Regions from separate parts of the Homo sapiens genome. Here all the other regions are reported to be linked to region 1. The links are microRNA targets in miRTarBase. Many come from high-throughput screens and were not tested one by one. Region 1 holds a microRNA gene; each other region holds the end of a gene's coding sequence.

Region 1 (7,576 bases):
TTTGCCATCCCTTGTTTCTTTCCCTGTTAGCAAATAATCCCAGTCGTCCTGGGAAGAATATAAAACTTGAACTAATAACTCTCTAGTGTTGCTGTTGGTCTTGTTATACTATTGTCACTACAGTTGCCCCTTTTTGTTTGTTTTGGCTGTTTGTGCTTTGTTTTGCTTTTGCCTAAAATGGTTAAACACCTCGAGTTCAACTGTGAGATGTGCACCTGTGCTATCTATCAACAAACACTCTCAATGTGGAACTTCTCTGGGAATCTTCCAGAAATCCAGTCCACAAGATCCAGTGTGCAAAGAAGCTCTGTCATTGGAACCTGATAGCAGAAATGCTAGGAGTAAACTCATGGTGACCAATCAGTTTGTCCAGTTTGCTCAAGTACCTCTTGCAATGACTAGAAAGTTTGCACAGGTACCAGAGAAATACATTACTAGAGAAAGACATTTCAGTGGTGGGCTTTGGTTTGTTATTGTGTTGGCTTTGCGACTTTTCAACCTGGATCAATTGAACTACAATCCCCAGAATTCTCTTTCTAGTCTGTTTCTGGCTAGCATGGCCTACAAAGAATATCCTTTCCTGGAAGGAGGATGGAAAGGGGGCAGCAGCCATATTATAGCATGTACCTACCTTCTCCTAGTGATTCAGCAAACTCTTATCCAGGTGCCAGTGTGAAGGGATCTTGCAGGTGTAATTAAGTTCCCTACTCAGTTGACTTTAAGTTAATTAATAGGGAAGTCCTGTTGATCAAGATGGAAGTCCTTTAATCAGTAGAAAGGCCTAGACCTTCCCTGAGTTGAAAGATTCCACATTCCAGCTCATGCTTCTGGGGTTCTGGCATGCTCATTACTTCCCTTCTGACCATCTTCCCTATGGACCCCAGGCCTGCTTAACCAGTCCCCACAATTGCATAAACCAATTTGTTGTGATAAATCTCACACCAGTTCTGCTTCTCTGGTTGAACCCTGACTGATATAATTGTCATCTGAAAATAACAAGAATATATTCAAGTTTGCCATTTGGATCTTCCACAAAACCATGGGCCCCTACAAAGTATAGTGGGGAAACCACAGACTCTGGGGCCACATGGCCTGCACCTTCTCCCAGCATCTTTCTTCACCAGCCAAGTGACTTTGGGCTACTAAGTCTCATAACCTCTCTGAGCACTGTCTTTTTACTTGTAAAATAGTATCAATACTAAGTCCAAGCCTACCAACTTCCCAGGGTTGTTTTGAAAAATCAAAGGAGATATCGTATGTGGAAGCACTTTGTAACCTGCCATACAAATGAGGGGTGTTTAGTTTTAAGATCACCTAGCCTAGCATTTTTAGTTAGGGGAGGCAGAGAAATAATAAACATTTACTCATGTCCACTGTGTATAGGAAATATGAATATATACTCCAATGCAGTCTTCTAGACTTTCTCATGAGGCAGACAGTGTTTGCCCCACGTGAGAGATGAGAAAACTGAAGTTCTAAGAAGTTGGCTAACTTCCCTAGATCACAGAATATGATTTGCAGTCCAGTGTGAAAATGGTTCTTACAACACCAAAGTCCAGGCTGTGTGGCCATGCCAACCTCCTTCACAAAAGAAGGACATTTCTTTGCATGTGACACCATGATAGTCATGCTAACTCCTAAAAAACTTTCAAGACATACTTTCAGTATCTCTTTGGAATTTACTAGTTTAATTGAGGAGCAAATAATCTATTTTGATTAGTGAAGAAGTTATTTCATCTAATATGCTCTGAGTCACAACACTTAAGAAACCAATAGAAGACAAAACATTTTTTGCTTTTTATATCCAGCAAATTTTCTTTTCCTAATTTACAATAAAACTATTCCAAGAATAATGAAAGCGAAACTGTATTATTTACTGATTTTGATTGCCCCAGTCTTTAAGTACTCAGAAAAGACACTTTACTGTTTGTGCGCACAGGGAAATTATTGTGGTTAGAGGTTAAAGCTATGCAAAAACAAACAAAAAAATTAATGTGCATTTTCCTCAAAAATTTAAAGCAGCCAGAATAATTTATGGGTTAGGCGTTTTCTGAGAGTTAATGATCAACTGTCTGAAAAGTCCTTGAGACAGTTAGTTGGTAAATGGCCAGGAAGTCCCTTCCACTGAGAGCTGAGGATTTCGAGACATTTGTTATGCAAAAATAGAACCTGAAATAAGCAAATATATATCATAGAGACTGGGATTTTTTCAGATCACTCTATTACATATAAAATTAATTCTACTCAAAATAACTGTAAAAATACAGGTAGAAAACATAAAATATTTATTAAATACCCACCAATTATTATGCTTGGCATTTTAAATCACTTTTCTCCTAATTCTCACAAAATTTTCATATTTATTAACCCCATTTTGATGAAGAGGAAACTGTCAGTTCATGGACTCACATAGCTATTAATAGTAAGAGCAAAGCTGGGATTCATACCCAGTTCCAGTCAAAGTACTTGCAGTTTCTACTTTTTGCATACCTGTAGCCTTTTATTTAAATGATTCTCTATTGTAATTATAAAATAAGAAAGAGTTCTATTTTAATAAATACTGTGTTAACCTTACAACTTGGCTCAAAAACAAAATGGAACACAATGTGCAAAAATAAAATCATTAATGCTATTTAAAGCTTTGTGAAACTAATTCATCTATCACAGAATTTAAATTTTTATTACTTTTCATGTGGGGGCCAAAGAATTTTAGTTACTTCTTATTTCATGGGCTTCTCATAGTGCAATCGCTGATGGTAGGGACCTTGTTTTTACCCTAAACTCTATATTAAACTCGGATTAAACTAAAGTTGTCAACACACAGTAAGTGCTCAATAATTATTGGTGAATGAATGCAATCTTACGTATGCCTGGTGCTTTGAAACTTACAAATCACTTTCACTCATTATTGATTGTGACTACGACAAGAAGGCTGTGTATGAGTTAGTGACAATCATTGTTAGCATCACTTTAGAGATAAGAAAATTGAAATGTAGAATAAGTTGAGTAACCTGCTCAAAGCCTCTTGGATTTGACTGTAAATCAAGGTCTCTTGAGTACAAAGAACAAAGTTTTTGTCCTACTACAAACACTCCCCCATTAAGGAATATCAATTTTTGTTAATGTTTGACAAAACTATGCCTCTTATTTAAATAAAACACTGAAATGAACAGACCCGCATGATACCAAACTGCATGTTAGAGTTTGAGGTCACCAGTTTATTTGAATTGCTTGAATGTGCTTTTATCATACTGACCATCTTACAAGGTAGATCAGCTGTTGCCAACCATGATATTGGGTCAGCAGAGTATTGATGCATCTGAGATCAACACATGAGAAAGGAGAGGATTTGGAGCTGGAAATTGCAGAATTATCCATGCAGCAACTTGGTATGAGCGGCCATTACCAACAGGAAGGATAGCCATTAACGGCATCCATGGGGGAGAAGGTGAGGAACTAGTGAACTAGAATGATTATCAAAATGCCAAAACAAAGAAAAGATAAATAATGGAGGTGATGAATATCCCGATTATCCTGATTTGATCATTACACATTATACACATATATCAAACAACAAAAACAAATGGAGTGATGAATATCACATGTATCAAAATCACATATATCCCAAAATATGTACTACTATAGATTATTTTTTATAAAGGCCCAAACAGTGAGAATTGCATTTACTTGGTTAACTATGTGTTGACATGGCCTTTTTTGAGATTTTATATTTAGATCATTTTGATAAAATTGCATCATTTTTAAGAAAAACTTTTATGTGCTTATGTAACATCAAGTTTGCAAAACTACAGTCATAGTAAAAGCAATACAAGCCAAAAACTAAATGTATGAGTGTGTGTATGTGCAGCTCTTATAATATGGAGTACATTGAAATTAAAATATTTAAAGGGATTCATTTCCACTGGAGCTATCCCCATGTGTGAAAATAAACACATTTTCTTCTCAATTACCCATGGTATTATTGGCTCTCCACAAACACTTGAAGAGCTTGACTAAGCCAAGTTATGTACTACTCAATGCTTTTTAGCAGTCTCTCTTAAACTTTTTTTACTTCCATCTAATCCCTGGTCATAGCCTCTGGGAAATTCAACACTATGGAGAAAGGGCCATTTGCTTTGTGGTCTTACATAAAAGAAGTTATCACCCAAAAGTCATGGGATATGTTGCTGACTCAACCTACAGAAGGATTTCAGGTTGGATCAGCAACATATCCCAGGAGTTGAGGCCGCCAAACCTCCTCTTAAGGCCAAGTCACAGCAAGTTTACTGAGACAACTGGAGAGATACCTGTAATGACTGCTGGAACTCACTCCAAAACCAACATCTATAAAAAGAAACTTCTCTTGAATCTCCGGTCCAAATCATCAAACCTATGTGTTTTCCTAACAGGAAACAGAGAAGAAACCACTTTTCCTCTTCACTCTGGCCTCTATTGAGAAAGAATCCAACTTCTGAATATTCAGGAAAAGAAAGTGCTTTTTGGTGTGACAACGTAAGCAACTCTCTAAGTCCCTAAGGAGCAGGAAATGTGTAGAGAATAGCCACCTGTGTGTATATTACCTCTTTCCAGCCACTCTTTTTTGTTAGCCAGCAGCCAGGTTGCAAGTACATAGTCTGTACTTATCTGTGCACCATTTGAGGACCACCAGATAATTAAGTCACACTCACATTGAGATATTTCTCCTCTGTCTCCATCCTCAGTTCCCCTACATCAGCCTGGGTGTAAAAATATCACCACAAAATAGCAGTGGCCCTATCTCCTTGACTGTCACCTCCTCTCATATATCTCTAGCCCCACTGAAAATCCTATCTACTCATTAGTAAGAGTGTTCCCAGGGGTGACCTCAGGTGCACCAGAAACCATCCAATTCCCTCTGTCCTGTCCTTACTGCAGCTATTTCCTACCGTCTTTCCATGAGGCCTCTCTGAACTGTGAGGCTTTGGACAGGGCCTCATTGCCAGCCCTGCTCTGGGCCCCACAACAAGAAAATTGCGCTCCCGGCCAAAGTGTGTGTTCTCTGTGGGGGTCCTGAGGCTATACGGTGGCTTCAGCCACTTCCACTGCCAGCTCCACCTACCAGGCACCGCCCGACACAATGGTCACAGGAATCCCTGGATTCAGTGCCAAAGTGAGAAGAATAGTGACTGTAGTAGTCTAGTAGTCAGGATTCTCCAGAGAAACAGAGAAAATAGGAAAGAGAGAGAGATGAGAAATGTGTGAGTGTGTGTGCATGTATAGTGTGTGTGTGTATATATATTCAGAGAAACAGAACCAATAGAGTGTGTGTGTCTGTGTTTGTGTGTGTCTGTGTGTGTATTATATATGTGTGTGTATGTATATATATATATATATATATATATTCAGAGAAACAGAATCAATAGCGAGAGAGAAATAGAAAGAGAGTGTATGTCTGTGTTTGTGTGTGTCTGTGTGTGTATTTTATACATATATATATATTCAGAGAAACAGAACCAATAGCGAGAGAGAGACAGAAAGGGAAAGTGTGTGTGTGTGTGTGTGTGTGTGTGTGTGTATAAAGAAAGTGGGGTCTGGTGTGCAATTTTAGGGAATTTGGGTAAGTCCCCAATCTGCAGAGTAGGCCGGCAGGCTGGAGACCCAGGGAAGAGATGACACTGCAGAGTTCGGAGGCAGTCTATTGGCAGAATTCTGTCTTCTGTGGGGAGGTCAGTCTTTGTTTTTTTTAAGGCCTTCTACTGGGTAAATGAGACCCATCCATATTATGGAGGGCAATTTGCTTTACTCAGCACTTACTCATTTAAACGTTAATCTCATTTAAAAAATATTTTCGAGGAAACATCCAAATGTTTAACCAAATTTCTGGGTACTGTGTCCCAGACAAGCAGATACATAAAATTACCCATCGCCTTTTTTGTTTGACATTTTAGTAACTCTCCTTTGGGGTCCCACCTCCCTTTTGGTGGGCTTACAGCCCAAACCAGTCATTCTCAACTCCAAAGGACATTTGTGGCAGTCACAGCTGGGGGAAAACTACTTGCATCTAGTGGGTAGAGGCCAGGAATGCTGCAAAATGTCGTCTAATACACAGCCTGGTTCCCAACAACAGAATTTTCCAGTCCCAAATGCCAATAGTAGCATTGCAGCTGAGAAACCCTGCTCCAAATGACCAGTTCACTTCCTGTCTCTAACCCTGTTCATTATTGCTTCATCCTCTCTGGCCTCCTTTCAGGTCACAGAGCATGCCAATTCCTTCCCTCCTTGGGGCCTCTGCAATCATCATTCTCACTGCTTGAAACACTCTGCTCCTTGCAGGGTTGGCTCTTTGTCATCTCTCAAGTTTCACCAAGAAATCCCACCCCCACATGCCCCTAATCCCTGTCAGTTTCATTAACCTGATTATGTCTTCATCACCAGCTGACATTTGCTTGCTTTACCTTGTACATCTGGATCTTGTTCCCCTCAAATATAAGCAGGATGAGTACCTATCACTAGGCTCCAAGGACAAGTGCCAGCCCTGGAACATAGTAGGTGCTCAACAAATAATTAGGGAAGGAAAGGAATTAAGGGAGGAAAGAATGCCTTAGACTTTTTTTTTTTTTTTTTGAGACAGCGTCTCTCTCTGTCACCAGGCTGGAGTGCAGTGGCACGATCTCGGATCACTGCAACCTCCGCCTCCCCGGTTCAGGCGATTCTCCTGCCTCAGCCTCCCGAGTAGCTGGGACTACAGGTGCATGCCACCACGCCCGGCTAATTTTTGTATTTTTAGTAGAGACGGGGTTTCACCATGTTGGCCAGATGGTCTCGATATCTTGACCTCGTGATCCACCTGCCTCAGCCTCCCAAAGTGCTGGGATTACAGGCGTGAGCCACCACGCTCGGCCAGACATTTTTAATGAATGTCACTCTCCCCATGTGTTTCGTTTCCAAACACACACACACACACACACACACACACACACACACACCCCACCAGCTCAAATACGTGTTTATAGGATCCGTTTCCAAAAAGTCACCAAGAGAGTAGTTCCTGTACACTAACCCTGCCCCCAGAATGCTGAGTTGTTTTCTATTGAACTTAGAACACGAACCCAGCCTTTTTCTCAACGACATCCTTCTCCCAAGACACAATGTGGCCCCTCATGCCAACGTGTGTGAACTCTACTCCCCACCCCTTAATCTTCCTAACATGCAGAGATCCCTTAGATTTAAAGTGCAACCCCTGCTATGAATCAATAACTTTAGAAGGACTTACCACAGAAAGAGATTAGCATGAGAAAGCTAAGCAGATATCATCGCAACAGTTCACTTTAAAAATACCACCACTCCTTCTATCTGTGACTACAGATGCCTCCTCACAGAAGTGGGGCAGAGATCATCTAGCCAGAACCAACTAGCAGGTCATCTGCGCCTCCCCCGTCCACGCCAATTCCATTCCCCGCTCTCTCCTCATGTGCTAAGTTCTCCCACGTTCTTACGGTGTCAGCGAAGAATTTATACATGCCTCTAAAGTGACTCACTGCATGAGTATTACTGTTTATTTTTAGCACCTTGTTGTTTTGCCTATAAATCCCTCTAA
Region 2 (7,576 bases), not on the chromosome of region 1:
TTACTGGGAGAACAGAGACTTAGTAAAATTTCTATTGCTACAGACAAATGCTAAAAACCAGCTTTATAATAACAGCATTATAAAGGATAGAACTTAATATAGAACCAGAAATATGGCAAGTTACCTAGTGATTAACATTGTAAAATAGTCAAAAACTTTAAAGCCACAGAGAAAGGAAAACAATTATGAAATGGAAAATATATAATATTTAAGTACTTTTATAATTCTAAAACTTCACTTTTGTCCTTAAATCAATATATTACGGATTTCATTGTTCAATAAATTACCATCTTTAATTAAAAATAAGTAAATCAAAGAGCATATTTGGAGAAACTAAGAGCTGTTAACTGTTTGGAGGGTAAAAGAATACTTTTCTCGAAATTTTTTTGAAGAAAAATCTAAAAGCCCTCTATGTTGAGTTAATACACCTTCTGACCCCCATCATCAGTGGCATTATTCTTCCAAGGGACTCTTATATCTAAGCAATGGTGAAGTTCTGGATTCATTATGGATCTCATGGCACCAAACCAACTGGCACTGAAGTTAAGTTAATATACTCCAGCGAGATCACCTGTGGGTCAAGGATGGCCCAGAGAATCTTGGAAAATCCATTTATATTGAGCAAAGATCTGAATCACCTTCAATCAGGCTGTAAGATACTAGAAAATTTGACCTTGTAGTAGTATTTCCCAGGGTAACTTAAGCAGCAACCTTGCACCAGAAGAAGAATTAAAGAGGGAGCAATCTAGTATTATCAACAACAACAAAGTTAACCCTAAGTTAGTACATCCCAGAATCTGCTGGATGTATAATAATTTAGTAACGGGGTATATGGCAGAGCTTTCTTTGATGTTAACAAATTTTGGCTGTGATTCTTAGTTACCAAGTTGCCAAAAAATGGTATATTAAATGAACTGCCAAATGGCAGATTAAGAAAATTAATGTACTCCAATGGTCTGTCCATGAAAGGAAAATGTACACAGACAAATTAAGAACATTTTACCAGGATCTGAGATTTAAACAATGGAACAATTGTTTTAACTGTTAGAATGACCCCAACTGTTAAGTTTGTCTATGAGTGTATATGTATATATAAATTCATACACATATATTATTTATTTCCTTCTTAAAAAGACTGAGGCAGTTCTGCTATATATAGTTAGCTACAATATTCAAGATAAAACAGTTCCTACTCAAAAAATTACATGAACACACGAGATAAGTTCTTATCGTAAATGCTATCATGAGGCTATCTAGTATAGCTCATATTTCCTGGTTGTAAGGCTCAAAACACAGGAATTCCACTCCAAGAGATAATTTGCCCCTCAATCCCTACAAAGTGTAGTCTAAACAAACAAAATGGTAATAAAAAATTGAAAAGGAAGATATAAAAAGAACTCAATAGCAGGATTCTGACTACCTCTGGAGACCACACACTATCATTATTCTGACTGTCTTAAATACAACAATCCAATATGCCCCAAGATGGAAATCTGGTATCGTAGGGAAAACATTGGCTGCAACTGTCAGAAAAGTTCATAATCTTAAACATAATTTATGCCATTTGCCAGTCACAAAGACATTTACTGAACAGAATTTTTGAGCCATTTGTAAAATTAAAATGATTGATCAATTTGAATAGCAACCTTCATGATGAAGAAATTAGGACTCTAGGTATGAAAAGCATGTTCCTTTTTTGTTAATAAGTTCAAAGGAGAGAAACATTCTGATATATGCAGATAAAAATATGGCTAGGCTGGGCGCGGTGGCTCATGCCTGTAATCCCAGCACTTTGGGAAGCCGAGGTGGACAGATCACGAGGTCAGGAGATCGAGACCATCCTGGCCAACACGGTGAAACCCCGTCTCTACTAAAAATACAAAAAATTAGCCGAGTGTGGTGGTGGGCGCCTGTAGTCCCAGCTACTTGGGAGGCTGAGGCAGAAGCATGGCGTGAACCCGGGAGGCGGAGCTTGCAGTGAACCAAGATCGCACCACTGCACTCCAGGTTGGGCAACAGAGCGAGACTCCCTCTCAAAAAAAAAAAAAAAAAACAAAAAACAAGGCTAACAAGAAAGAGGATAACCAGCAAGTACCACCTGGATGTGTGTTGTCAGGTAGAAAGGAAGAATAAAATTCAGGCAATGAATATAATAGATTTAGCAAAGTAAAGCATATGAAAGGAAGAAATGTTTGATATGTCTAAGTATCAATGCCTTCGATCAGAGTAAGAAAAAAGTATTCATTGTTCATGTCCACAGACTAGATATCTAAAGAGATACTTGGTGGGCAGGGGCTTGGGAGGGAAGGCGCAAATTGGAATGTTCAGCTTTTAAAGTAAAGACTGTACATGAAGACATATTTTATGTACAGTGAAGATTGTCTTGTGTTACTTTATATCCCAACATAAACCTACGCCACCCTCAGACGAAGAGGGTATCTAACACTGAATAAATGCTGAACCTATTTAGTAGTTAAAGAAAAAAGAGAAGGATCTTAAAGGTATATATGGGAAGCTTTTAAGAGGTAGAGAAACCAACTGGGTATATATTTTCTTTTATTTGATTTCAACTAGCAAGAGACTAAGACTGATGTTTGTTTGTTTGTTTTACCTTCAAAGTCTTAGTCTTAAATTGACAAGGGCACAAAAAAAGTGAAATTAAAATAATTTTAACAAAAGGGAAAGCATTTGACAGTGTTTAAAAGACAGACAAATCAAGCAAAACTCAATGTGGCTTAAGGTAAAAAATACAACTAGGTATTAAACAATTTGTAAAAACTTACAAAGAAAATTTAGCTTTCAAGAAAAATTAGGCAGATTTCCTTCTGCCAAAGTGACAGGTCCTGAGGAAAAAAAACACAACCTCTACAAGACCAAGCACAGCTCAAGGGTCAGGGCCCCGTCCTAGTCATCTTTTTATTATTCAATATCCATCACAGTGGCTGGGCAAACAACAGGCATCAATAAATGTTTACTAACTGAATGTGTATTATAAGGTATAATCGGTATAACTGATATAGCTCAAATCTAATCATGAAAGCTTCTTTAAAGTAGGATAAAAAGAGCACAATCAGCGGTATTCCAGAAGGTAGGCCTAAATCCAGTTATATTTTTCTAATCGTTGACCAGTGGTTATAAAGACTTTCTGAGCTTCTTTTTAAAGCAATGAAACTCTTTCCAAAAGAAACCCCATGCAGTTCTTCAGTACAGAATAAATATGCCACTAAGTCAGTGAGAACTCCAACAGCCTCCCCTAAGCCAGCCCCCAAGGTGTCTCTGTGGAACCTACTGGAAAAAATATTACTCATCTTAGAAATGTGATAGAAAGCATGGCCATTCGGTTCTCAGGTCATCATTCCTAGAAAATTAACAGTATTGTGAAGAATAAATCCTAAGTAATGTTGCTAATTTAAATAAAGACAAAAATTCAACAAAGAGGGGATTCTATCACTTAGAAAAATGAAAACCACACCTATAAATGGGGGGAGGGGCAGAAAACAAAAAAAAAATCAGGCCACAGTAGATAAAATACAAAAAACATCATCTCGTTAAAAAGCATCAAACACATTCACACAAATGTAATTACAACCAGGAAGTAAACTGCTCAACAGGTATAACTGCTCAATAGGTGTTTTCAAAGAGTTGAGTCCCAATTTCATACTGTACAGAAAAATCGCATCAGAACTGTAGAGATGCGCTCCACTACTGAAACAGCATAGTAGGCACTGCTTGACCTAACACAGTAATGCAAGAGTAACCACCAAGATCAGGACCTTCTACCACTTTCAGAGTTGTTTTCTGCCCCTACAACTGTTCCCTAACACCATTACAAGTTCTCAAGTAAGAAAAAGAAGGGCAGAGGCTCCACTGAGTATCTCCTACAGGCCTGATAGTGGTATTACCTAGGACATTTACTCTGCTCACAAGATGGGTAGTGGAAGACATAATTACTGGACAGCACAAAGTCTGGAAGCAAGCAGCAGGGCACTAAAACAGTGAGAGCTTACACAACAAAAGCTTGTTAAATTAAGTAGTACTGATGTGGTGCAAATGAAATTTTTACAGCAAAGGTTGAGGAAGGAGATATGTTAGTGAGAATCACATGAAGCAGACTATCACAAAATAAGGCCACCTTCAAAATGTTATGAACTGTAGAACCATTCTGATCTTCAAGTTTGGATTTGTATAGAGGTTTCTGTATAAAGCATTAATACCTAATCAGGAGTTTCCTTTAGTGTGAACCTTTTTGCATTTGATGCTATTCTCTTTGCCAGGAATGCTTATCTCCCCTGGCTCCTCACTTGGCTTGCTTCTTTAATGTCAGGTGTTAGCTCATGCATCCTTTCCTTAGAGGCTTTCCTTGATGTCCTACCTGAAGCATCCCATCTGTTATTCTCCAGTACAGTACCCTGTTTATCTCCTTCATAGACAAGTAAGATAATTAAGGGTTAGTGTAACTGCTGTCTCAGCAAAGGCAGGAACTGTAGTTGTCTTGTTCACCTTTACCCAAAGACTAAGAAAAGTTCCTGGTACAAACAGGTGAACAATAAATATTTGTTGAATGAATAAAAAATTACTATACCAAATTTACATGAACACATACATATACACACAAATATAGGAAAATGGGGAGTACCCAATAGAAAACCACCAAATGTTGAAAGTATTGAAAATGATACCTATAGAGACAGGTGGATATGATTTCAAAGAACAAGTACCAAAGACAGCTTCAAAAATATGAAAATTTATGAAAAGACGACCAGGAGTGGTTATTTTCCATTTCTACTAAGATGCAAACAAGAAGAAATGTTTAAACTGCAATGAGTCAACATCAGACATAATAATTATTTGCTGCAGAATGAACTAGCAACAGAGTTTCGGAAATCTCCTCTCACTACAGAGCATGAAATATTGTCAATCACAAAACCAGGATCAGTTAAGAACAGCTCAGACTGCAGGTAACTTATAAGCTAAAAAACTTGCTAAATAAATGGCTTTTCCCCCAATTTTTAAAATTCTGAATTCATAATTATGTGTAGAATAACAATCAATTTATAAACTGAATACAACATACTTTAAAAACAGATGGCCCATATCTGCTGATCCTACCTCAGCATCACTTTTCTAGGTATTTTGCAGAAACAATTACATTTACAAAAGGCCCATTTCATAATGCAATCTGGTTACTAAACCAAATCAAACTACTCGAAGAGCAGAAGGTCTGCTGTTGAAATATTGTAAAATACCTTTGGAAAAACGGTATTTATAGATTAGCTTTTTTAAAAAGGGATAAATATGTGGAAGTAATTCTAGCATATCCCTGAAAATAATTATACTGCCACCTATGCATTTTTTATGAGGTGGAAGGATAAATCAACAGACTGCTAGATTATACAAGCCAATTATTCCTGTTGAAATTTGGGCATAAGACAAAGGGACTTTCTCCATATGAATTCTTACTGTATCCCAGAATTAACTGGTGCCAGCAGTATCAATGCAACTATTACTGGTGATGATGTCATGTTATGCTGTTTTGATTATGAGGACAAAAATGGGAATGGAAAAAAGAGGCTTGGAAAGGTTTTCAGTATGGTTTCCTTATAATAAGATTTAGCAGTTAAAAAAAAAAACAAAAAAAAACAAAAAACCACAAAAAGAATGACTGTTTAAGCCCCACTGAACACATTAAGGTCAAGGATTTCAAAAGTTAATCCACTTTTCTTCCCCCAAGAGTTTATTTTTGGTAAAAGGCAGAAAAATTAGTTTTTCTACAGGAAAATCTGCTTCTAAATAATTTGAAAATCTTGATATATATTATATATTAAAAAAGACACACAAAAATAACAGAGAAGTGGGAATAACAGATTAGGTACTGCAACTTTATAAAGGTTTGCCTAGATCAAGAAGCAGCGCACACACACACCTCATCTATGCAAACTAAAAATGTATATAAACAGCACAATACTGTGATACTGGATCATGATACATTACCTGTACACATAACTACTACTGTTATTAATAAACCTTTGGGACACTCAGTTTTATGCCCAATAAGACATCATTAAGTCTTTAAAATCTTCTCTTCCTCTTTAATGGGAGAGTATTTCTAGACACTAATTTTCCCATCTAATATTCAAATATAGGAAACAGATTCCACAAGGTGCTTTAATTGATGAGACCTCAAGTGCTGTTTTCTCTCTTGAACTTTTGGATAGTAAACAGTCCATAGGGACCACACACAATGCTATGACAGAAGAGTTGTTACATTAAGTCTTTTCATGGGACTTGATTGGTGAAGCTTTATGACATGCTTGAGCAACGCACTGAAGGGGATCCCATCTGAGTTAATACTTTGTCCAACCACTGTAGAGGTCCATTCAGATGAAGTTCAATCCAGCAAGGAGTACTTGTTACCGTCTGCCTTCTGTTTAAAAGAATACAGGAAAATGATTATGAAATTCAAGTCCACAGGCAGGGAAAATGGCTATGTTTAGGTACACTGCATTAAAAATTTACAGAAATTAAAAGGTTGTGTATATAATTTTGGACACGATTATTCCGCAAAATGGTTGATCCTCAAAGTCAAAGTACTTCTGATGACCTTGTTTTAGAAGTGATTTACAAGAACATCTTTTTCTCATCGCACTAAAATTAATAAGGTGATCTTATTATTCACCATCATCCAAAATGGAACACCTGAGAGAGAATGTAGATACTATTAATATCAGGCCAGGGCCAGGCGTGGTGGCTCACACCTGTAAGCCCAGCACTTTGGGAGGCCGAGGCAGGCGGATCACAAGGTCAAGAGATTGAGACCATCCTGGCCAACATGGTGAAACCCCGTCTCTACTAAAAATATAAAAATTAGCTGGGCGTGGTGGCGTGTGCCTGTAGTCCCAGCTACTCGGGAGGCTGAGACAGGAGAGTCACTTGAACCCAAGAGGCAGAGGCTGCAGTGAGCCGAGATCATGCCACTGCACTCTAGCCTGGCGACAGAGTGAGACTCTGTCTCGGGGTGGGGGGCAGAAAAAAATCAGGCCAAAAGGAGACACGTGAATCAGGATTGTCCAAGCAAACCAAGACATAAAGTAACTGTACTTACCAAATCAACCACAGAATAGTAGATACTCAAATATCAAACAGAATCTAAGTAAAAGTATACCAAAGCAAAAACAAAATTTTGGCCCAAGCTAAACCCACACCACAGAGAGTGTTAAAAGCTGGAATTCAACTTTCCCTGCCAAAGCCAATGAACATCCCTCTTAGCAACACCATTCGGGCTTTTAATAGTGCTTCAACAAAAGGGGCAACTCTAAGAGAATTACAAATTATTCAATGACATCCTGTCACTTCCATGCGCTGATTTTAGTTCCATCTTATTTGCTATACAGAATAAAGTCAATAAATCCACTTGCTTCTACAAACTAACAGCCCTTCAAATATGAGAAAAGCCCATTATCAACTCTTCATCTCCAAGCAACACATGTTCAATGTAATTTAAAACTGTACTTCCAAGGATGTCACTTTCTGAGGCAGATGGTATCAGTGCCCCACTGTACCCTTTGGATTTTTCAGT
Region 3 (7,576 bases), not on the chromosome of region 1:
AGCCTCTGCCTCCTGGGTTCAAGCGATTCTCCTGCCTCAGCCTCTTGAGTAGCTGGGACTACAGGCACGTACCACCACACCCGGCTAATTTTTCATATTTTTAGTAGAGATGGGGTTTCACCGTGTTAGCCAGGATGGTCTTGATCTCCTGACCTTGTGATCCACCTGCCTCGGCCTCCCAAAGTGCTGGGATTACAGGTGTGAGCCACAGTGCCCAACCGAGAAATACCTTTGTAACCCAAATTCCTATGAAGACAAAAAACATTATCACTCCAGAGAGTTTCTTCATGCTCCTTATCAGTCAGTCTTTTTCACCAACCCCCAGAGACAACCACTGTTCTGGAGGGTTTTTTTCCCTTCCATAAATTAGTTTTGCTTTTCTAGAATTTTATCCAAATGGAACTATGTCAATATGCACTCTAAAGGCTTCTTTCATCAAGTTTATTTCTTTTGCTGAGTAGTATTTCACTGTATGAATGCACTACAGTTTATTTTCCTATTGGCATAGAATTTTAAAAAAATAGAGTGCACAGGTCTTTCTCTTTGGAGGGTAGCATTAATATGGACATGGTTGTATTGAGACCAACAGATATGCACAACCATTTTACTGCTTCTGTCACAACAAACATTAAAACAAAGTTGGGCGTGGTGGCGCATGCCTATAATCCCGGCGCTTTAAGAGGCTGAGGGAGGAGGATTGCTTGAGCCCAGGAGTTCGAGACCAGCCTGGACAACATGGCGAGACCCCATCTCTACAAAAAATACAAAAATAGCTGAGTGTGGTGATGCGTGCCTGTAGTCTCAGCTTCCCGGGAGGCTGGGGCAGGAGGATTGCTTGAGCTAAGGAGGTTCAGTCTGCAGTGAGCCATCATCGTTCCATTGCACTCCAGCCTGGGCAACAGAGTGAGACTCTATTTCAAAAATTAAAAGAAAATAAATAAAAATTATTGCTTTTAAAAATGCACAGAAATGTTCTGGCTTCTGGTTCTAAAGTATTTATCCCTTCATCTAAGAATAATCTCATGAAAAATATATTCAAAAGGGAAGTAGAAATCTTTTCCCCTGTGTTTCCTGAAGAATCAATTACTTCTTTTTTATTTTTCTGAACAGAACCATACTCTTGGTGATATTAGCAATTTTTAAAAATCTGAACTCAGTTCAGGTACAAGTGGAAAATTACGAGAGTAGACTTATTGTATTTCTTTTCCCCTTGAGTGGTTTTCTGTTTCATCAAAATGACCATAAATCGAATACTTCATCTTATGTTTATGCTTTAACTTTTGTAAATGATGCTTCAATGAATATCTTTGCATGGTCCTGTATGTTTTTGCATCTGATTATTTCTTTTTAATAGATTTTAAAGTGTTACTGTTAGGCCAGAGGGTTATGAACATTTAAGGTTAATACATACTTGCTAAATTGCTTACCAAAAAGGTAAGCAACAGTACATAGGAATAGTCATGTGCCGTTGTCAATTCTTGTTATTTTAAAGGTAGAAACAAGACGAAATGGAGAACGCGTGGTATCCCTTGGATATACTTGTTTAGGAAAGAACTAAGTTTTTTCAGAGTATATGGAGTTGAGCTCATTTCAGTGTTAGCATTATGCAAGATGTGACCCTTCCCTTTTTAGCACGAAGCCAATCAAGAAATGAGATAGCGTAGAGTTTGGTCATGCATTTTTTGCCACAAATGCGACTAGGTATTTATAGGGTGTGTTTCTGAGTTTCTGCTCTGATTTGTAAACTGGGTTCTTGTTTTTTATTACCCAGCCTGAAGAAAGTTCGTGGCAAAGTCTGGAAGCAAAGAATATCTAGCCCTCTGTTCAACACCAAACAATACACAATGGAACTAGAGCGGCTCTATCTACAGATGTGGGAGCATTATGCAGCTGGCAACAAACCTGACCACATGATTAAGCCTGTTGAAGTCACTGAGTCAGCATAAATAAAGACTGCACAGGAGAATTACCCCTATACCTGAGCCTCAACCTTCTGGGGGAAAGGGAACTAGATAACATACTTCTTACTTGTCTGTACAGTACCTTGTTGCAGATGGGTGATATATAATGGTAATAGAATAGCACAGCCAGACTTGCTTCCTGCATGGTAGGGAGAGACACAAAAGATGGGAAACTGCTTTTCCACAAGGAATCTCCGTAGAATTTTGCGGCGACCAGATGGTGCATAGGTCTGGAAGGTCTGATCTCCCTTGGTCTTCCATGGGATGGTTAGTGTGGAGGGGAGATATAGATTGTCCGGCCGCTTTGTGATTCCATGGATTGATTCAGTCTTCTGGATTTTTTTTTCTTTATATTTTGGGTACTGGAGCTTTTAAAAATGTTTGGTTTCAGGTATTTTTATTCATGTGAAGTGTATATGATTCTCTTGAGATAAGGTTTTAAGCTAAAATGTTACTCCCTGTTTTAGTTTCTGAACTCTGACAGATTGACAGGGACTTTGCTGGTGTAGTCTTTTTATAGGTTTTATAAACCACTTGAGCCTATATCAGTCGTTTTAGTGTCTGACCTAATATTTGGAGCTATCAGTGCTTTGTTGATTTAGATGATGACTCAAGATTTTTTCTGGTCCATTTCCCATTTCCTTTTCTTCCCTGACCCCCATACCCTCACCCTTAAAATTCTCCTGTAACTCAACTAACAAAATCAAGCCTGATTCAAAACATCCTAGGGTGTTTTAAACACACCATCTGGTGCCAAATGAAGATTTTTAGGAGTGATTACTAATTATCAAGGGCACAGTTGTGGTACTGTCATTGATAATAATATAGTTTTTTTTTTTTTCCTAATTTTGACCTGTTTCACCAGTGTTTTACCCTTGACTGCCCCTTCTATGCTGCTTCCAAAAGTGATAGTGTGTGTAAGATTTTTACCTTCCTTTCTAAAGTTTTTTTTTTTTTTTTTTAAGTGAGTCCTGTTCTTCCTATTTCTTTCAGCAGAAATGAAATCCCAGGTAAGTATAAGTATTCAAGTATTTGATCAGTAAGTCACAGTTATCTCCAGTGCATTAAATAACCTTCATCAAGAAATAGGTTATAGGTAAAATCTCTGAAGGATCATCTATGTATTCAAGTAATTATTTTTTAGATAATAACTGTCTTCTGGACTTGGTCTTGAAGTCTGTACAGATTCAGCCTCAGTAGTAGCGAACTGCACTGCTGTTTGGTTTGGAGTACAAATTAGACTTATAGTCCTCCTGGAACTTGAGTTATTAAAATCATAGGAATAAAATTATGGGATCTCAACAAAGGGTCGAGGGTTTGAGGCTTAAACAAGCCAACATATGAATATATGTTTTGTCTCGCTATACTGCACTTACGCTATCCAGTTGCAGGTAATTTTTTGTCTGCTAGTAGTGTTCTAGATTATGTCTTTCCAAAGCGCTGAGGCTGTGCACCTATTCTGTAGTTGCAGCTGATGCCTGAATGTATCCTAGCTGACAAATTATTGATTAATAAGAACTTGAATTTCTGGAAGATTCTTACTGTTAACCAAATTTTGAGCAAGGAGTCTCAAAGGTAATTCTGAACCAGAATTACATGTTAATGAACAGTGTACCTTTTAACAGTGTAAATCACGGAATATCCGTGAAGGGATTTCTTAATTTATTTTTTACCGGTTGATTGAAATATCAGTTAAAGGTTGCCAGCATGGTTGCAGATAAACTGATGTTTGAAATTCGCTGAAATACTTAATGTGGAATAGGATAATATACTTCCAATGCCCTCAAGGCTGTGACCTTACAGCCATTTTACATAGCACATCATTCCTCCTATAGGGATGAACTTTTTCCTGGCACGAAAAGTAGCCGCTCTGGTTGAAGCTTTGCTTATTGTAACAGGCTTTTATTTCCAGGTAATATGTCTTGGAAGACTTAATTCTGATTAGAGATATAGATATTACTGGAAACTAATTGTTTTTTTTCTATTGTACTCTGCTTTATCAAAGAAGTAAAACATTTAAATCGTACTACAGAAATTAAGATGTTGTCTTGCGATCCTTAATAAATGAATGATTTCCCTTTAATACGGCTGATGTATTTTGTATCCTGTTATATTGAGTGTTGGACTGAAGAATAGTGTCATCCAATGATGAAACCTATATTTAAACACCTCCAAACAGCATGAAAGGACCAAATTTCCCTACTGTAGCTATGATATTAGGAATTGTTTTCTCAGCCAGGTCTGGTAGAGGGTGGGGTTAGTTTATGATCCATTAAGAAGGCAAAGTGGCCTTGTGTGGTGGCTCACGCCTGTAACCCCAGCACTTTGGGAGGCGGAGGCAGGTGGATCACTTGAGGTCAGGAGTTCAAGACCAGCCTGGCTAACATGGTGAAACCCTGTCTCTACTAAAAATACAAAAAAACTAGCCGGGAGTGGTGGCACACGCTTGTAATCCCAACTACATGCGAGGCTGAGACAGGAGAATCGCTTGAACCCGGGAGGCAGAGGTTGCAGTGAGCTGAGATCGTGCCATTGCATTCCAGCCTGGACAACAGAGTGAGATGTCATCTCAAAAAAAAAAAAAGACAAAGCCTGTGATCCCCAACACACCCATTCATGCTTGCTCCTCTTTTGCTTGTGACCTCTCTGCTTTCATTTACCCTTGTAGTCTCGGTTTTCATGTGGACCATTCTTTTCTTGGCTCTTGGGGGCAAAATTATTTTCCTTCCTGCTCTGTATAGTGGTCGAACTCTGCCACAAGCATCAGGGAGGAAGATATCAATTCATGATTGATATCATGAATTGATATCATGGCAAATGCTGTTTGCCAGTTTTCTCAGATATGAGAGGGAAGATTTTTTTCAGTAAAATTTTGCATGATTTAATTCCCAACTTCTTAAAGCCCTCATGTGGATTGGTGTTTGTTTCCTAAAAGATTATTATGGGAAGAAAGCCTACTCAAAAGTTTTTACTCCCATTCGCTTCTCTTGAAAAATCTACATTATTTCCAGTCTACTTCAGCTCCTCCTGCCTTCAATCTAAAGGAGTTGCTTGCACACCTTGAGTAAATGTGTGTAATTTCTGAACTGCCCATTTTAAGATTTGATTCCAAACCTATCCCATTCTTTTACTTGAAGCATATGCCTCTCAATTATAGCTAACATCCTGGTTCTTTGCCCAAGCCTCTGAGGCACAGTTATGTAATCCCCATTCTTATAAAGAGGCTTGTAGAGGTTAATTTGCAACTTCATTGTAGAGAGAGAGAGTAATCAGCCCCCTTTATCCAATTTTTTTATCAACTGAGAAAGTATCTGTATTTAGGTAGGCAATCTGGTGCTTAAGAGCAGGTTTTGGAACTAGAGTTGGAGTTTGAATCTCAGCTCTGCCACTTTTTTTTTTTTTTTTGAGATGGAGTCTCGCCCTGTCCCCATGCTGGAGTGCAATGGCACGATCTCGGCTCACTGCAACCTCCGCCTCCCAGGTTCCAGCGATTCTCCTGCCTCAGCCTCCCGAGTAGCTGGGATTACAGGCGCGGGCCACCACACGCGGCTATTTTTTTTTTTTTATCTTTAGTAGAGACGGGGTTTCACCATGTTGACCAGGCTGGTCTCAAGCTCCTGACTTCGTGATCCACCCGCCTCAGCCTCCCAAAGTGCTGGGGTTACAGGCGTGAGCCACTGTGCCCGGCCAGCTCTGCCACTTTCTAGCTGTGTGATCTCTAAAATGAGAGTGCTAACAGTTGCCTACTTTTTAAAGTGTTGTATGAATTAAGTCGTAAGACACTTGGAATAATGCTTAGCACAAAATAGTATCAAACGCAGGGACATTTTATGTGTGTTCTGTTACCCAAAGGCATACATTACGAAATATATAGATGCTCGCTGGAGAAACTGGCACAATCTAGAAAGCGCTGTTTTCCCCGTTTGTTTTTCTTGGTGTGTATGGAGTGAGTGCCAAAAAGCCTCAAGTAACCTTTTTTTATCTCCAGGGTTTGGAGGGTTCTGGAAGTAAACATCATAGTTCGCCGTTGCCAGGCGCTGTTGAGTTGCTGCCTTGCTCTTATCTAGGGGTCTAGATGGCCTTCCCTGCAACCCCCGCCCCCCTGCGCTCCCGCGTCCCCCCGCGCCCCGCCCTCCCCTCGGTGTTCCCGTCCACGCCCCTGCTCCCGCGCCTTCGCTCCAGTTCTCGTGCCCCCGCCCCTCCCCCCGCGCCCTTTCCCAGTGGTTGCAATAACGGACTTAGAGGTCTGGACAATTCAAGTAAGGAACAAGGCTCGCTTATCCAAGTTCTCGCAGGATAAAAGTTTGTTATGAACGATTTCACATGGTTTCTCTTTATCAGAAAGTTGTTAGGGACTTTTAATCGCAGAATTGGCCTCGGGTGCCCACGCTCTAGTATTGAAATGGCGGTTTTGGGACAAATAAGCAACATCCGTGGGAGTGGAAAGCGACAGACCTGATCCCGGAAGCGTTACAGCTAGGCGCCAAGTTCACAGGCGCGAAGTTCAAATTTGTCTTGTGACCACTGTGATAGGTGGGTACAGGGGAGCGCGGGCGAGCACACGTGAATTACTGCTACCGCCCCCTAGGTCCGGGCACTATAAAGGGGCCTGCGCCTGGCGTTGTTCATCGCAGTTGCTCCGGATCTTTGCACACACTCCACGGGCAGTTGGAGGTGAGCTGCTGCCGGCCACGCCAGAGGCTGCAACACCAGGTAGGTGACCGGCTGGTCGGACTGAGATGGGTGCTGAAGTGGTCCAGAGGTTAATCCTAATTGAGTGACTTAATTAAAATCAGGACCACTGTATACCTTGGACTCTGGTTGCCCGTGTAGGCCTGAGGTGGGAGTAGAGGAAGTGGCAGCGAGGGGAGAAGTGGAGGCGCCAGTGGTAGCATTGGGGGAGGTGGGGGCGCCCATGGTGGTGTAGGAAACATATGGTGGCGCCAGTGGCGGCATTGGGAGGGGTGGGGGCGCCGGTGGCGGCGTAGGAGCAGCTGGTAGTGCCAGTGGCGGCGTGGGGAGAAGGGGCGCTGGTGGCGTCATTGCAGATAGTGGGGGGCCTGGTGGTGGCGTAGAAGGAGGTGTTGGTGCCAGTGGCGGGTGGAGAGAAGTAGGGGCACCAGTGGCGGCGTTGGGGGAAGTGGGGGTGCCTGTGGCAGTGTCGGGGAAGTGGGGGTGCTGGTGGTGGTGTAGGAGCATGTGGTAGCACCAGTGACGGTGTGGGGAGAAGTAGGGGCACCATTGGCGGCCTTGGGGGAAGTGGGAGCGCTGGTGGTGGCGTAGGAGCGTGTGGTGGCGCCAGTGGCTATGTAGGAATACGTGGCGCCGGTGGCGGCGCGGGGAGAAGTGAGGGCGCTGGTTGCGGCACTGGGGGGAGGTGGGGGCCCCAGTGGTGGTGTAGGAACAGGTGGTGTCCCTAGTGGCGGGTGGGGAGAAGTAGGGATGCCAGTGGCAGCGTGGGGGGAGGTGGGGGTGCCAGTTGCGGCCTAGGAGTACTTGGTGGCGTTGGTGGCATAGGAGCACATAGTAGCGCTGGCGGTGTGGGGAGAAGTGGAGGCGCCGGTGGCCGCATTGAAGGTGGGGGTGCCAATGGGGGCGTTGAGGGAAGTGGGGGG
Region 4 (7,576 bases), not on the chromosome of region 1:
CTTGACCTTGATGAATGTAGTCGAGAACAATAATGATTCTGTGAGCTGAGTCACATTGGCGGGCCTCACCCTTTTGTTGGGGGAGGAAAACGAAAACTATCTGAATATCCTAGACCAGGTTTTTATAAATGTTAAGAGAGAAAACAGCTTTTAGGGTCAAAATAATTTTGTGAAGTAGTAGACAAGGCAAGTTTTTATATTGTAAGACTTCTTGGAGCCCTTTTTTTTTCTTTTTCTTTTTTTTTTTTTTGAGACAGAGTCTCACTCTGTTGCCCAGGCTGGAATGCAGTGGCGTGATCTCAGCTCACTGCAACTTCCGCCTCCCGGGTTCAAGTGATTCTCCTGTCTCAGTCTTCCGAGTAGCCGGAATTACAGGCGCCCGCCACCAAGCCTGGCTAATTTTTGTATTTTTAGTAGATATGAGGTTTTGCCATGTTGGCCAGGCTGGTCTTGAACTCCTGACCTCAGGTGATCCACCCACCTCAGCCTCCCAAAGTGCTGGGATTACAGGCGTGAGCCACCAAACCCGGCCTAGAGCCTTTTACATGCTCACGAGTATTAAGTCTCTCCAAGAGACTGATATACGATGTTGTATTTTTCAAAATGACAATGCAGCCCTGTTTTCAAGTAATATGTACTGACTGTTTGTTTCTGACTATATCTTGAGAACCTAGATGACCTAAGAACATAGCATTTTGCTTTAGCATATACTGTGTATCTCTTGCAGTCTGTTACTTGTTTCACTGACTCTTTTCTAATCACCCTGTGTCAGGGTCTTTCTTGCTTCTTCTCTCTGTCTCTCTCCTCTGCTCTTTCCTCTCCTCTGCTCTCCATCCCCTCCCTTTTATCCTTTCATAGTCTTCACTATCTGTATCATCTTTGTCTCATCCAGGCTCCCCATCCTGCTTTCTCTCCTTTCTCTTCTTTGAAAGGATATGATGCCATCTAATGCCCAGTTTCATTAGGCCAACGAATATTTGGTATGTCTATTCTGAATGAATTCTCTGAAGGTACAAAATGCAAAGCCAAAGTCGCTGCAGTGTGATTCTAGAGAGCCCCTCATCACCTAAACTCTCCACTGCATCTCTGCAGCACGCCGTCCTGGCCACCAGCCTTTGCCAGGCTTTCCTGTGCCGTCCAGTTAGCCTTTCTGGTATAGTCTGAATGTATCTCCCAAAAAGCGTGTGTTGGAAACGTAATCCCCCTTGCAACAGCATTTGGAGGTGGGGCCTAATGGGAAGTATGGAGAGCTCCACCCTCATGCATGGTTAATGGGGATTATAAAATTTTGGGCTTGAGGCTGCCGGTTCAATCCCTTGCTCTCTCATGCTCTCTTGCCTTTCTACCTTCCATCATGGGATGATGCAGCAAGAAGGCCCTCACTGGATGTGAGCCCTCAACCTTGAACTTCTCAGGTTCCAGAACTGTGAGAAATACATTTCTGTTCTTTATACATTACCCAGTGTTTGGTATTCTGTGATAGCAGCACAGTACAGACAAAGACACCTTTCTTTATGATCAACCTCTTCAACCCCACCCTTGGCAAAAAGCTCTTTCTCACCAGCTAGATCACTTTGATTTTTCTCATTCTCTCTACTTTAAAGTCTTTGCCTGTAAATTACTTAAACATTTGTCTATAATCTGCCTTCAATTGTTTAAAGGACATGTTTACTTTTTATTTCAAACAAAGGGAGGCAGAATCCACGTCTCCCTTCTTCTCCTGTCCCTTTGGTCCACAGCACGTTGCTGAGCACACAGAGACACTGGCTGTGAGGTGGGGCCAGCTCCTCTGGCGGAGACAGCTGGGGTTCTATTGATACGCAGGGCAGATTTGCCTGCTCTGGCCGGCCAGGCAGGAAATGTTCAATGAATAAGTGAATCCTTGTTGTTTTTTATGTTCTTTGGTGAATGACAATATTTCTTTTGTCATAATCCCTCAAAAATATAAAGAATGTAGATGTGGTTTATGGGGAAGCATCTAAAACCCAGACAGGCTTTTACCAACTCAGGGTTAGGAAGCCACATTTGTCTTCCTGGTGGGACATGAACGAGCTCAGTATCATTGACTCTAAAGCAGTAGCCTGCTATGGATTTAGAAGCTTGGCTTTCCGGTTTGTTCTCTTTCTATGGAACCGCCAATGTTTCTGTGAACTGCTGATAATATTGACTTGAAAAATTGGAGCATTAGAGTTAGTTGGGAAATGCTTTGCCTCTTTTTAAAATCAACTTTATTCAGGTAAGGCTTATATACAATAAAATGCACCTATTTTTAGTGTATTTTATAATAAGTTTTGACAAATTTATCCATGCACACAATTACTGCAACAATCAAGATATAGATACCGTGCTGTCCAGTAGAATAGCCACTAAACACATGTGGCTATTTCAAGTCTAATGAGCTAAAATTAAAATGAAAAACGTCCTCAGTTGTACTAGGTATGTTTCAAATCCTCAGTAGCCATATGTGACTGTTATTCAGCATATTAGACAGTGCAAATGGAAGACATTTTTACCATTGCAGAAAGTTCTGCAGTGTTGGACAGTGATGATATAAAACATATCCATCCTACCAAAAGGCTCCTTCGTGCTCTTTCCCAAATAATCGCCAACCCCTACCCCTGGCCTTAGGAAATCACAGGTCTAATTTTTGTCACTACAGATTAGATTCCTGCCTTCTGGAGCTTCATACAGAATTCCTCTTTATTTGCCTGGCTTTCATTCAGCATGTTTCTGAGGTTGATCTGCTCATGTTGTTACATGTCTAATTTGTTCACTCCTTTTCATTGCTCAATAGTATTCCATTGTATATATAGACCACAATTTACTTATCTACTCACCTGTTGATGACATTTGGGTTGTTTCTATTTGGCACAATTATGAATAAAGAAATTAGCTTTTCATATGGATATATGTTTTCATTTTTTGGGGGGTAAATATCTATGATTGGGATTGCTGGGTTATGTTGAAAGCATATGTTTAACTTTATTAGAGGTTACCAAACCATTTTCTAAAACGATTGTACCATTTTACACTCCTATCAGCAACGGAAGAGAGTTCCATTCTTACCAATTATTACTGGTTTTATTTTGTTTTGTTTGCTTGTTCTATTAATTACTGAGAGACAAGTATTGAAATCTCTACCTATCATTATAGATTTTCTATTTGTCCTTTCAGTTATATCAGTTTCTGCTTCATGTATTTTGAGACTTCGTGATTGGTACATACACATTTAGGAATGTTTTGTCTTTTTTATGAATTAATCCCTTTATCATGAAATGCCTCTCTTTGCCCTTGTTCTGAATTCTACTCTGTCTGTTAATAATATAGCTGCTCCGGCTTTTTAAGAAAAAAATAGAATGCACATGGTACATCTCTTTCTATCCCCTTGTTTTTAATTTATCTGTGTATTTTTATTTCAAGCGAGCATCTTTTAAATAGCATATAGTTGGTCTTGCATTTTAAAATCCAGGCTGAGAATCTCTAACTTTTAATGGGAGTGCCTAGACCATTTACTTTGAAAAAATTAACAAAGAATAAACTGTACATATTTAAAGTGTACAATCTGAAGAGGTTTGGCATGCATACATCTGTGAAACCATCACCACAATCAAGACAATGGACACTGCTTTCATTCCCAAGTTTCCATGGACTTCTTTGGAATCCATTCCTTCCACCATTTCTCTCTAGGCAACCACTTATGTGCTTTCTGTCCCTATAGGTTAGTTTGAATTTTCTAAAATTTTGTATAAATGGAAACATAGCATATGTATTCTTTTTGTCTTGCTTCTTTTTTGCGTCATAATGATTTTGAAGTTCATTCATGTTGGCTATTTGTTGCAATATTTTTCCTTTTGATTTCTGTGTAGTATTCCATTGTGTGGATATACCGCAGTGATTTTATTCATTCATATAGATGAACAAACATCTGGGTTCTTTCTAGCTTTTGCTATTACAAATAGAGCTGCTATAAATATTTTTATGTAAGTCTTTGTATGGACATATGCTTTTATTTCTTCTGGGTAAATACCTAGAAGAGAAATTGCTAGGTCATAGGGTAGACATAGGTTTAACTTTTTAGGAAATCGCCAATCTGTTTTCCATAGTGTTTGTACTGTTTAACATTCTTACCAGTGATATACAAGAGCAATGTTTGCTCCCCTTTCTTGCACCAACACAGGGTATCATTTGTCTTTTTAATTTTAGTGATTCTATTTGGTGTGGTGTTTATTTACTTTTTCCATTTACCTACATAAGTCTTCTTTTATGAAGTTTCTTCTCCAAATTTTTGCCGAGTTAAAAAAATTTAGTTTTTTGTCTCCTAAGTCTGATGTAAGTCCTTGGCTGATAGATGTGATGTATTTTCTCCCATTTTCTGGCTTGACTTTTGGTTTTTTAATGGTATCCTCAGAAGAATAAGAGTTTTTAATGTTGACAAAGTCCAATAAATCATTTTTTTTCTGAGTTAAGTTTTTAAAGTGTTTCAAATATGGAAATTTTGTCTACCTAAGATAACAAAGATTTTCTCCTGTGTTTTCTTCTAGGAGTTTTAAGTTTTACATTTAGGTCTATGATCCATTTGGGTTAATCTTTGGGTAGAACGTAAGGTACACATTCATTTTATTTCATAGATCTAGTTGTTCCCGCACCACTTTTTTTTTCGGAAGAGTTTTCATTCCCTCCTTGAAGTGCCTTGACATTTTGTCAAAAATAAATTAATGCTTATATGTGTGGGCAAAATGGTACATGATACATTTAAATAATTTGTCTGTAAATCTCAGTGGGATACCTGAATAAAAGAGTGGGCCAACCATTAAAAATGATAATTACATGATTACAAATCTCTTATTTTCATTAAATATAGTTTGCTTTAAATTATTTCTTTATGACTATTCCAAAACAAATAGAAAAATTTTCTTTGATTCTAAAAACCACATGACTGGTAACATCCATATTATGAAAACAAATCATCCTATATGTTACTGAGTGTATGGGTTTTTTGGTGAACACAAGTCTTGTTCCAGATATTTGAATTTGATAATGTTCACAGATTCTAGAATTTTCTTTGAATGCAAATACACTTGGAAGTGACACATATACAGAGAAAACCAAACCCTCAATTTTCCTAAAAAAATCCAGACCTATAGCATTGCTAAAATAATCATAATTTAACTTTTTATATTAGGAGTACCAAAGTAAGCCAATATTTAATTCTGTGACAGAGGAGTATGAAAAAGAAAACCCAGTGGCTATGAAAACAGAGATCTAAAAATTTAATGATTTAAAAATAGCCTCTACATACAAGACGGCAAAGAGTAATACAGATTGAACATTTGGTTTTAAAAATGTGAAATGTCTCCACTTAGCGTAGATCAATCAAGTCAGCCATCTCCTAAGAAATACACATTATACAATGAAATCTACAAAGACACACTTTTTAACTTCAAGCGTTGTTGATTTTCAGCAACCCTCTTCCCACATGAACATTTCCTTGTAATGTAATGTATGACTTTTAATCTTCTTTTGGCAGAGTAGGACTTTGAGAATTATAATAGCAGTTGTTTTGAAAAGCACCTTCTATGATCATTTATTTCCACTGATTTTTTTTTAATCACTCTGAGATCATGCATTCTTGTTTTTTAAATCCTTTTCTGTTCCAATGATTTGGTTGTTTAAAACAAGCAAGCTTAATTCAGTCAGGCATATATTGCAAATAAAAACATGTTTCCAAGTAGGCTGGAATAAAAATGCTAAATAAGAACTGGGCCAAAAGATCATAGATAATGTGCTTCTTCTCTTGGTAATATGTGAATACATTTACCCATGGGGTAGAAGTATTTCACCTGCCCCATGAAGAACCTGATGGCTTGTGGTGTCTGTGCTGTGTCAATACTAACAGATGTGAGGAGACAGACTATGGAATGGACGCTGTGACTATCTGTGAGATAGTGGAAGGGGTTATACACACTGGCCACAGGAAGTTGCAAAAATTAGATGGACTCTGTGTAGCTAGCCACTCTTGAGTGTCAGGTCTGCATATGTGAGTTTTAAAGAAGGTGCAAGATAGCAATAAATTCCCTTAGAGAGCAGGATATGTCCTGGTAGCTCTATAGTTCCATGATCAAGGACCTGGCCAGTTTCCCTCAGGTAATGGGGGTAGTAGCACCAAAGTGAATATTAAGAGTCAGAAAGGCCTCTACTTGCAACTGGCGGATCAAACCATTCCCCTATTTTGGTGAACAATCATAGTCTGATACGCCTTTGTAAATCTTTGCTGCAAATATGGTTTTTACAACTCTAAAAACATCTTTTGGAAAACCTCATGACTGAACCACTCACAAATGCAGAAGATTGAACAGCCCCAGGGAGGCAATTGCTCTCCTTTTATTGTAGCTGTCTCTCAGTATTGAAACAACCCAATCCTAACTGTGGTCCTGGCCTCTAAACACACAGGTCTCTCTTCCCTCCAGCACCTGAACTATCAGAGCTTGGATCCACATATATATTCTGAAATTTGCTCCGCAAGAGGGCTTTTGGGCACTTGGCCATCATGTGTTTAAGATGGTCAGTTTTGAAAAGAGTTTTCCAAACAAGAATAAGTCATGCTATGCCTCATGATTTGGAAGGTGAACACTTGCAAATAAACTATGCTTCCCAGATTTGGGAGTGCCAGGCTCAGAATCATCACAAGGACGTGGAGAACAATATTATAACCAGCTGGTATGTTTTTAACAACAACAAAAAAAATGCAGCATTAGAAGGTGCTTACTAAGGTGCTTCGTAATTCATGGTTTTTTTTTTAATGAAATGCATCAGACAAACATCTACAAACAAACATGAATACATGGGCATACAAAAGCACGTGGACAAGTTTTCTGTACAGTTTATGTCTCAGATACTTCTATGTATACATAAGAACCACTCAGGGGGAAAAAAAAAGATTTCCCTCTCCAGCTCCCTGAATTTCTGAAAGTTGACTGACCCATAAAATGTTAAAATATTTCATTTTTATATAAAATATCTACAAAAATAGATAACATTTACAAAAACCAGACAGTATTTCCAGTTTTCCTTAGTAACCGTTAACGCAGTCCCCTTCCTCTTTTTTTTCTTCTCAGAACGTTGCCATCTCCAGCAAAGAGCGCTTGAACAGCTGGGCATTTCTAGAAAGGTCTGTCACTTGGTGCACCATTTCCTGCAGGGCCGTGGTGCTGGGGTAATGGAGGGCGGCCATCTTGGTTGCCATGACTATGGTCTTGAGCTGCTCGCAGAGCTGGTTGCTGGAGTTCATGACTTTGTTGCGAATGTCCTGGGCAGTCACCTGCCGTGTCAGCGTGTCTCCAATGAACACCAGTTTGTGTGCACTGAGGATGACAAACTTGCTGTGTGCCACGAAGATTCGCGGGGGCTGGGCTGAGCTGACACAACTGAAGAGTGCGTCAATGGCGTTGAGAAGGGAAATGAAATGGGTCTCACATTGGTCATAGTAGAAGCACAGCAACTGCCGATCCTGAGCACTCACGCCACTGTTTGTGGTGGGTAGGCTCTGAGAGGGCTTCCACTTCGAGATGTCATTCTC

Evidence for each region. The annotated mature microRNA hsa-miR-5702 reads UGAGUCAGCAACAUAUCCCAUG and lies in region 1 at 4,174-4,195, opposite strand. An mRNA with a match to its seed (bases 2 to 7 or 8) in the 3' UTR can be bound and repressed. Matches are read on the target gene's strand: a 7mer-m8 pairs with bases 2 to 8, a 7mer-A1 pairs with bases 2 to 7 and ends in A, and an 8mer does both.
Region 2: the mRNA of SMAD2 is a reported target of hsa-miR-5702. Seed matches in the 3' UTR shown: 7mer-A1 at 4,822-4,828.
Region 3: the mRNA of OGT is a reported target of hsa-miR-5702. Seed matches in the 3' UTR shown: 7mer-A1 at 2,568-2,574.
Region 4: miRTarBase lists NEDD9 as a target of hsa-miR-5702. Seed matches in the 3' UTR shown: 7mer-m8 at 6,179-6,185.

What each region holds. Positions count from the first base shown.
Region 1 is chr2:226,654,547-226,662,122 of GRCh38, forward strand. MIR5702 (microRNA 5702) reads right to left here and starts at 4,247; the gene lies at 4,164-4,247. RefSeq lists a silencer at 1,394-1,594.
Region 2 is chr18:47,835,527-47,843,102 of GRCh38, forward strand. It overlaps SMAD2 (SMAD family member 2), which reads right to left. Exons shown (of 11, transcript NM_005901.6): 11 at 1-6,424. The coding sequence ends at 6,301. Among named protein-coding and RNA genes, the nearest start is that of SMAD2, 91 kb to the right of the region's middle.
Region 3 is chrX:71,571,849-71,579,424 of GRCh38, forward strand. OGT (O-linked N-acetylglucosamine (GlcNAc) transferase) reads left to right here. Exons shown (of 22, transcript NM_181672.3): 22 at 1,772-4,044. The coding sequence ends at 1,946. GCNA (germ cell nuclear acidic peptidase) reads left to right here and starts at 6,589. Exons shown (of 13, transcript NM_052957.5): 1 at 6,589-6,674. RefSeq lists an enhancer at 6,796-7,437.
Region 4 is chr6:11,178,051-11,185,626 of GRCh38, forward strand. It overlaps NEDD9 (neural precursor cell expressed, developmentally down-regulated 9), which reads right to left. Exons shown (of 7, transcript NM_006403.4): 7 at 5,248-7,576. The coding sequence ends at 7,112. Among named protein-coding and RNA genes, the nearest start is that of NEDD9, 51 kb to the right of the region's middle. RefSeq lists an enhancer at 6,974-7,576.